Linked DNA regions of Homo sapiens. The protein of the gene in region 1 purifies or fractionates together with the protein of each later gene. This does not show direct contact. Each region holds a gene or a part of one and is shown on either strand. Other genes may lie near its edges.

Region 1 (3,826 bases):
ATTGTCCAGAATTCAATCACATGGCCTCAAATAGACCACAAAAAGTGGGAAAATTTAGTCTTCCTGCTGGCCTAAGAGCAAAAAGATGTGCTTTGGTGAATACATAATAATATCTCCTCCAAAGAAATATGCACACAGATTGTATGATTAATATTTCTCTCTATTTACTAGTAAACAAGTCATCTTCACTTCACTAAACATTTACTCTGAGCTAGGTATTATGCTAAATACTTGATATATTTTATCCAACTGAGTCCTCAGAGCAATCTTGGGAAGTGAATTTTAATTATCCTCATCTCCCACTTTCCAGATGAGCAAGCAGAGGCACAACGTGGTCAAGGGAGTTTTTCACGGCTGCACAGCTACGTAATGTTCAGACTCAAGATTTGAATCTAGTTTCTCCCAAGACAGAGGTGAAGAGCTACTAGTGATCAGATAGAGAACAATGAGTGCTTGGCAAGCTGGAGCTTCTTGCATTGTCAGTTACATTAATCTAGAAGGATGTGGGACCCTCAAGCTGTAATCAGCAGATTTGACGAGGGGGTCATGGCCCATGAAATGGTGGAGAGTGGGAGTTGCATCCCGGCTGAGGATCACCTGCACAGGAGACCACAGAGCATTTGGCAGCCATAGCCCCTGCCTTCCAGCTATGTCCCAGGCTCCAGTCTGGGTATTTCCTTGGCTCTGGGTCCAGAGGCTGTGGCTCCCACCTTAATACCGAACAACAGAAAGTCTGGAACTGGAGAAACACAGTTCTTAAGTCTGGGGTGATTGGGTAAACCACCCTAGTCAAGGTGGAAGTCAGCTGATGAACCTGTCCATCCCCCTGGCAGGTGGTCTTGCTTCCCCTGATAGAAGTCTCCATGCTCTCTGGCTGGATTAAATATCACGACTACTTCTCAAAGCCCCATCACTTCATTTCTGTCTCTCTGACCTTTTTGTCTTGCAACCAACTTCCTGGCAGAGGCTCCTATGGTCAGGTGCAGAGGAATGAAATGGTCCATGAGGCAAGAATCCTTAATCTCAATGGCACTTTGAACTCATCTGGAGCAGCTGCTCTGAACCTCTGGCCTCAGGAAAATCAGTGGCTCAAAAAAGGAAGAAATTCCCCTTTTATCTTTCTGCTTTAGGGTGAGGACTGTTTCCTCAAAGGATTGCTAGAGAAGCCAGGAGGAACCCAAGACACTCTGGTGGTGGGTGATTCAGTTTTAAGCAGTGGCAACAAAAAGGACATGGGTTGAATTTTGCCACTGCCACTCACCCTGGTGTGTTGGGGCCACCTGATAATCCTTGCACTGCAAGATAGGCCCTATCTACTTACAGGGCCACTTATGACTTATCTTGTAGTAAGCTTAGAGAGAGTAAATGTGAAAGCATTCCTAAAACTCTGAAGTGCCATGCAATGGAGGGTGCTAATAATGTTGAAGTGATGCCCTCTACATATGTCTTTCTGGTATAATTTCCTAATTCACTTACTGTGTGTACTAAGAATCTCCTCCAATCTAACTTTGCTAACTGCAGTGCCAGTCTTTTCGGCTGGCCTAGGGGAGGTGCTTATGGCAGCCTGAGAGGGCCAAGGTGCAGGTCATGGGGCAGTTCTGTCCAATCAAAAGGCTTCCTAGCAGACAGTGCCGAGGGCCATCCTGCCCACTCCTCTGACCTCACAACGCTCCTGAGAGGAGGATGTGGCGAGGCAGCGAGTGTAGTGGAAAAAACTTGGACTGAGCATGGAGAACTGGGTTTGGATGTTGTTTCATCCACTCGTGACCTCTGTGAGTCTGGACAAGAGTTACCTACAAGAGTGGAGTATTAGGACTTATCTAACAGTGCTTTGTAAACCATCAAGTTGGATACAAATAGCATGTTTTCATGGCAGAAAATTAAGTCAGCGAAGCACATTTTCCCAAAGTCAAAGAGTAAATCAGTGGTCACACTAGACTAGACTTCAGTCTGCTAGCTCAGGGCTCTCTCTAGGAAAGAATGACCGACCACCCAAATTCCCCCGACCAACAGCAGTCTACACACCTGAGGATATCAATCACCTTACAGGTAATGGAAACTGGGTTTAATAACCCACTGGAAAGTTCAGTATTCAAAGCCGTAAATGTTCTGAGGCCTGAGGAGACACATTCATGGTACCGAATTCCAGGAACTAAACTTCCAGTATTGTCAAATCCACAGATCACTCCAAGACCATTCCACCTCTCCATTTGGCATCACTGAACAGTGTTGAGACACACAGGATCTTTGTAATAAACACATAACATCACAACAATGCACATTTATTTTATTTTTTCCTTAGATTTTCAATGGGAATCTGGTACAAAAGTTTTCTTGTCTGTGGGGCTCACTAGGACCATGCGTGGCACGAATGCAGTGGGCAGCTGTGCCCTCACCATCGGCCCCCAGCGTGCCTTCTTGTCAGCTTTTGCATTGTTTTCTCTGAGCATTTAGAGAACATGAAGGTTACTGGGCTTCTAATGAATTCTTGGTCATAAGTAATTGCCAATTTAGTGTGTGGCATTTTTAGTATTTAGCCAATTTAGGAATCCTAAAATCATAAAATATGGTTGTTAAATTCTTTGACTCCAGGATTTAAAAAAAAAAAAGGTACTTCATAAATTCCATCTGCCTAAGTTTTTGCAGGCAGAGGATTTTGGAACTCTGTTGTATCAAGGCTTTGTTATTGTTCTTTGCTTTTGTTTTTTAAAGGGGGACTAACAGACGGCATCATCTGTGAATCACCAGACACCTGGAAGGGAAAGGACCTCCTTAGGATCCCTCATGAGCTGTACCAGCCCTGCCCTCTTCCTGCTCCTGATCCAGTGTCCTCGCAGGCTCAGTGGCCCGGCTCTGCCCACGGTGTGGTCCTGAGGCCTCCTGAGAACCACAACGCGGGGGAGCGAGAACTCTTGGAGTGCGAGCTCAAACCCAAGCCAAGGCCGGCCAACCTGCGTCATGCCATTGCCACTGTCATCATCACTGGCGTTGTGTGTGGGATTGTGTGTCTCATGATGTTGGCAGCTGCCATCTATGGCTGCACCTATGCGGCAATCACAGCCCAGTACCATGGGGGACCCTTGGCTCAAACCAATGATCCTGGGAAGGTGGAAGAAAAAGAGCGATTTGACAGCTCACCAGCCTGAGAGCTTTTGTCTCAAATAGGATTGGTCATTGCAGGCCAGAAGATAGTGTCTGAGTAGGGCTGATGTGTTTCCTGTTAGTCTGATTTTGCTTTTGCCAAAAGACAAAAAAAAAAAAAAAAAAAAAAAGAAAAAAAAAAGATGTGTCTGTAAAAAATATTTCTGGGGAGGAATTTATGTTGCGATTTTTAAAATACTATAGGTAAAATAAAGATGATACTTGTGCTCTGGGCCTGGGAAGTTATTACGACGATTCTATGTGGGGGTAAGACACACACAGAGAAAGGGAAGATGCCATCTCTTCCAGGTACTCTTCTGTGGATTAAGTTCCTTTTACAAAGCACCAGAAATTCAAACACACATGCCAATCAGCATTCCTGGGAGCTTTATGGTCCACTGGAAAACTGCCCAATTTTGAGTGCTTGGGAAGAGGCTGGTGATCTTACCCGATGGGCATTGAATGCCTCTATAATTCGAGTTCATGCTAGATCAGTGATACTTTTAGATGTTGTATATGTTATAAATTTAGTGGAAGCTGTTGGTTGGGAATTTCATAGCTTGCCACAAGAGTCAAAGTCTATTTCATTTTCTAAATCAGAAAACCATTTGGGGCTTTCTAGGCCTCAGAGGAAGAAGAAGATTCCATGTCCGGATAATAGGACTCAGGCCCTGAGTCTGGGGAA
Region 2 (3,826 bases), on another chromosome or scaffold:
AGGAACTGGACACCTCACACTCATGACCTTCCTTCCAATAACAACAGTAGCAAAGATAAGAAATCAACCTGAGTGTCCATCAGTGAATGATTGGATAAAGAAAATGTGGTATATATATACACCGCGAAATTCAGCCATTGAAAATGAAATCATGTCCTTTGCAGTAACTGGAGGCCATCATCTTAAGTGAAACAACTCCCAAATAGAAAGAAAAATACCACATGTTCTCACTTACAAGTGGGAGTTAAATAATGTGTACACGTGGTGATGGAAAGTAGACTGATATTAGAGGCTTAGAAGGGTTGGGGAGTAGGAGTGGGTAGATGATGAGAAATTGCTAGGATCATTGTACATTATTCAGGTGATAGATACACCAAAACCCCAGACCTAGTCACTAAATAATATATCCATGTAACAAAATTGCATTTGTACCCCTTAAATTTATACCATTTTTTTAAAAAAAAGGAAAACAATATGTCTTACAGATAACAGAAGCTGTGAGTTACTGTAAGAATGCTGATTTCCACATCTTTCATGGTATAAGTCAACCTACATTGTGTAAAATGGAATTATGTAGCTTTTAAGTGACTCCGATCTCTTAATATACGTATAATAATTTTTCTTAATTTTAGAATAATTTTTGAGGAACTAAAATTGCTTTTTGTCAAGAAATTTCTCCTCCAGAGATGAGCAGTTTATTTAGTTCACTTTGTTTTCTTTTTCTTCTGTTGAATTCTCTTATTAAAAATAACATGTCTAGTGTGATCCTATTGTTATAATTTGAATTCTGACCTTGTTGCTTACTACCTGTGTGACCTTAGTCAAATTATGTGAGTCCATTTCCTCATCTATAACTGGGCATTTTATTTACTTCACAAGATGGTTGTAAGGATTAAAATATGTACACTTGTCCCTAGTATCTGTTGGGGATTGATTCTAGGATCCCCCTTCAGATACCAAAATCCACAGATGCTTAAGTCCCTCATATTGTATGACATAGTACTTGCATATCACCTGCACCCATACTCCCATATACTTTATCTCTAGATTACTTATAATACCTAATACAATGTAAATACTGTGTAAATAGTTGTTATACTGTATTGTTTAGGGAATAATGACAAAAAAAAGTCTGTACCTGTTTAATACAGATGCAAACATCTTTTTCCCCTAAATATTTTCAGTTCTTGGTTGGCTGAATCCTCGAATATGGAATCCACAGAAGGCTAACTATACTTAAATGACCTAGCCCACTGCCTTAAACTCAGTGTCTGCTCAAAAGAGAACAGCTATTACTATTTTTTAAATTCAGATTGTATATGTGCATGTCCTTCTTCAGTAATGTACTTTTAAAAATCATCAGTATATTCTGTTTCAGTGCTCTATTTATTATTTACATCTTTTAAAAAGTTACTGAATTTAAATTATCTGTTTATTATGTAAAGTGTTCTACAATGGACTTTTCTCAGGTTTGAACTTGTTCTGGAAGCTGTGCGTCACCGTAATGAGGCTTGTAATTCTTGATAACTATGACTTGGCTAGTGAATGGGCAGCCAAATACATCTGTAATCGCATCATTCAGTTCAAACCTGGACAGGACAGATATTTTACACTGGGTTTACCAACAGGTAATTAACTACTTTTTCCATTTTATATTCTGATATTATCTAAATTTAATTCTGATGGAATTGAAGGGTTTCTTTTAAGATACTTTCCCCATTCATTTATTGGCATGTCACTAATTGAACATCATAGTATAAAAGGCCAGAAAAATGCATATATATAAAATCTACTATCTACAATGTGTTACTAGTTCTTGTGCCAAAATTTAGTCTCACCTGTCACTCCAAAATGCAATAGGAAATATTGTAACTTAAGTGTTGTTCATATTTTTTGTACATTTTTCTAGTAGTCCTTTGTTTTGGGGAACATTGCTTTTACCATTCATACCAGTTTTTAGTTGATTGGCTTTCTTATTAATCATTAAGAGGTACCTAAGGTATGTACTGTTGCCTCTTAATTTAACTTCACCTGCCTTATAAATCCTTATTAATATAGAAGTTATAAATTATATATTATATAATGTTTATTAGCCTTTTACTATTTGCTTCTTCTATTATAGATGTATTACAAGTGAAAAATATATCTTCATCACAGTAATTACATATTTTATTGAATTCAGTTTTCCATTAAGCATTCTCTTAAAAAACGACTAGGTGGTGTCATTTGATCTTATGGCACTTTATTTGACCCATGATTTTCACAGAGTGTTAGACCTGGAACTAAAGTTGCTCCTTATTGACTACAAGGCATTTGTTCTATACCCCTGAGCCTTGGTTTCCTTACCTATAAGAAAGATAAGGATAATAACTTAAGATGCTGTTTTGAGATTCAGCTAAGATAGTGTATGTGTAAGTCCCTTGTATACTGTAGTCTATAAATTTATAGTTCCCGTGTGTTTTATTTAAACAGACTGTTTTCTCCAGCTCCTCCCCTCATACATGGTAATTACATAAAAACTACAATTGTAATTTTTTCCCACTTGAGTAATTTCCGTGAATGGTACTCTTCAAGTTGATTGTTTTGTTTTGCTTTTTCTCTTTTGGTCCAGGGCAGTAGATCTTGGTGAGAATGGCAAAAGGGTTTTTTTTTTTTCACTGGACACACCAGTACTACACCCCCAGCACCCTCAGTTCTGATATGTGACCCCTTGGGGTTGAACGTGGTTTCTGTATAGTTTCTATACTGTTACCCTTCATTACACTCAGCCTACCTCTGTTAATAACATTGTGTTAATTATGATGCAGAAAAAAACAGTAATTTGAGTGGGGACAGAAAGACTTAGTCTTAAATGTCAGCAGTGCTAAACATCTTTTTGTGTATTTAGATCTACAACGTTTGCTTTATTTTGGGTAGTATAACTGCTAGTAATATACCTGCCAAGTGAGGATCTCTGGAAAACCTTGTTGAAATTTTCCATTACTCTCCTTCATTGACCATCGACAAGTTAATTATGTCCTCTTCCCCCACTGCTTCTGAGACTTGAACATACATGTCGGTAATTGCTTGTACCAGGCTGCATTGTAATTATCTCCCTATCAAGCGCAATTTCTGGGCAATATCTGTTCAATTTTATATTTACTCACGTGACCTTAATGAGCTTGACATTTAAAGGCCTGCATGCTGTGAACCTGATCTGCTTCCCAAAACTTATTCCCACCATCTCCTTACACAGAACTGGGCTAGGCATATTTGACTGCTTGCAGTTCAAGAATAGGCTTGAAGTTGCTGGCTGCTTTGCTTTGCTTTGCTTTCACTCATATTCCTAGCATGTTATTTAATGGAATCTATATGAACTCTGGCACCAGACCTATCTAGATTGGAATCCCTGGTTTCACAGCCATATGACATTTGGCAAATTCCTTAATCTTTTTGACCCAGTTATTTTGTCTTCAAAATGGGAAAGATAATGCCAGTTTCTCAAGATTGTGAGCTTTATGTGAGGTAATATATAAAAACATTAGCGCAGCATCTAGCCACATGGTAGACAGATGTCATCGTTGAACCTCCCGCTCCATCTTTTCTCTGCTCTGAGTTAGTTTCCTCTTTGTTGAAAGTGTATCCCTTAATCAAGACTGAATTGAAATGCCATTTTCTTTTATTGTTCTTCCAACTCGCAAGATTGTAGTCTTTTTTATTTGATGTTCTGCAATACTCAGACTTCTTTTAGATTATTTATAATGTTTTTCCTGTGTTATGGTTATTTTGTACTTGCTTATCCCTATATTGTGAGTTCTTAAAGAAAATGTCTTAATCTTTGTTTTAT

The links.
Region 2: the proteins of LRTM1 (region 1) and GNPDA2 purify together in Homo sapiens (affinity purification with mass spectrometry; one large-scale study listed by BioGRID and IntAct). This does not show direct contact.

The regions. Positions count from the first base shown.
Region 1 is NC_000003.12:54,917,779-54,921,604, reverse strand, and holds the end of LRTM1 (leucine-rich repeat and transmembrane domain-containing protein 1 isoform 1 precursor), read left to right. Parts: intron 1-2,712; coding exon 2,713-3,146; 3' UTR 3,147-3,374; downstream 3,375-3,826.
Region 2 is NC_000004.12:44,719,886-44,723,711, reverse strand, and holds part of GNPDA2 (glucosamine-6-phosphate deaminase 2), read left to right. Parts: intron 1-1,469; 5' UTR 1,470-1,504; coding exon 1,505-1,628; intron 1,629-3,826. UniProt on the Homo sapiens protein: Catalyzes the reversible conversion of alpha-D-glucosamine 6-phosphate (GlcN-6P) into beta-D-fructose 6-phosphate (Fru-6P) and ammonium ion, a regulatory reaction step in de novo uridine diphosphate-N-acetyl-alpha-D-glucosamine (UDP-GlcNAc) biosynthesis via hexosamine pathway.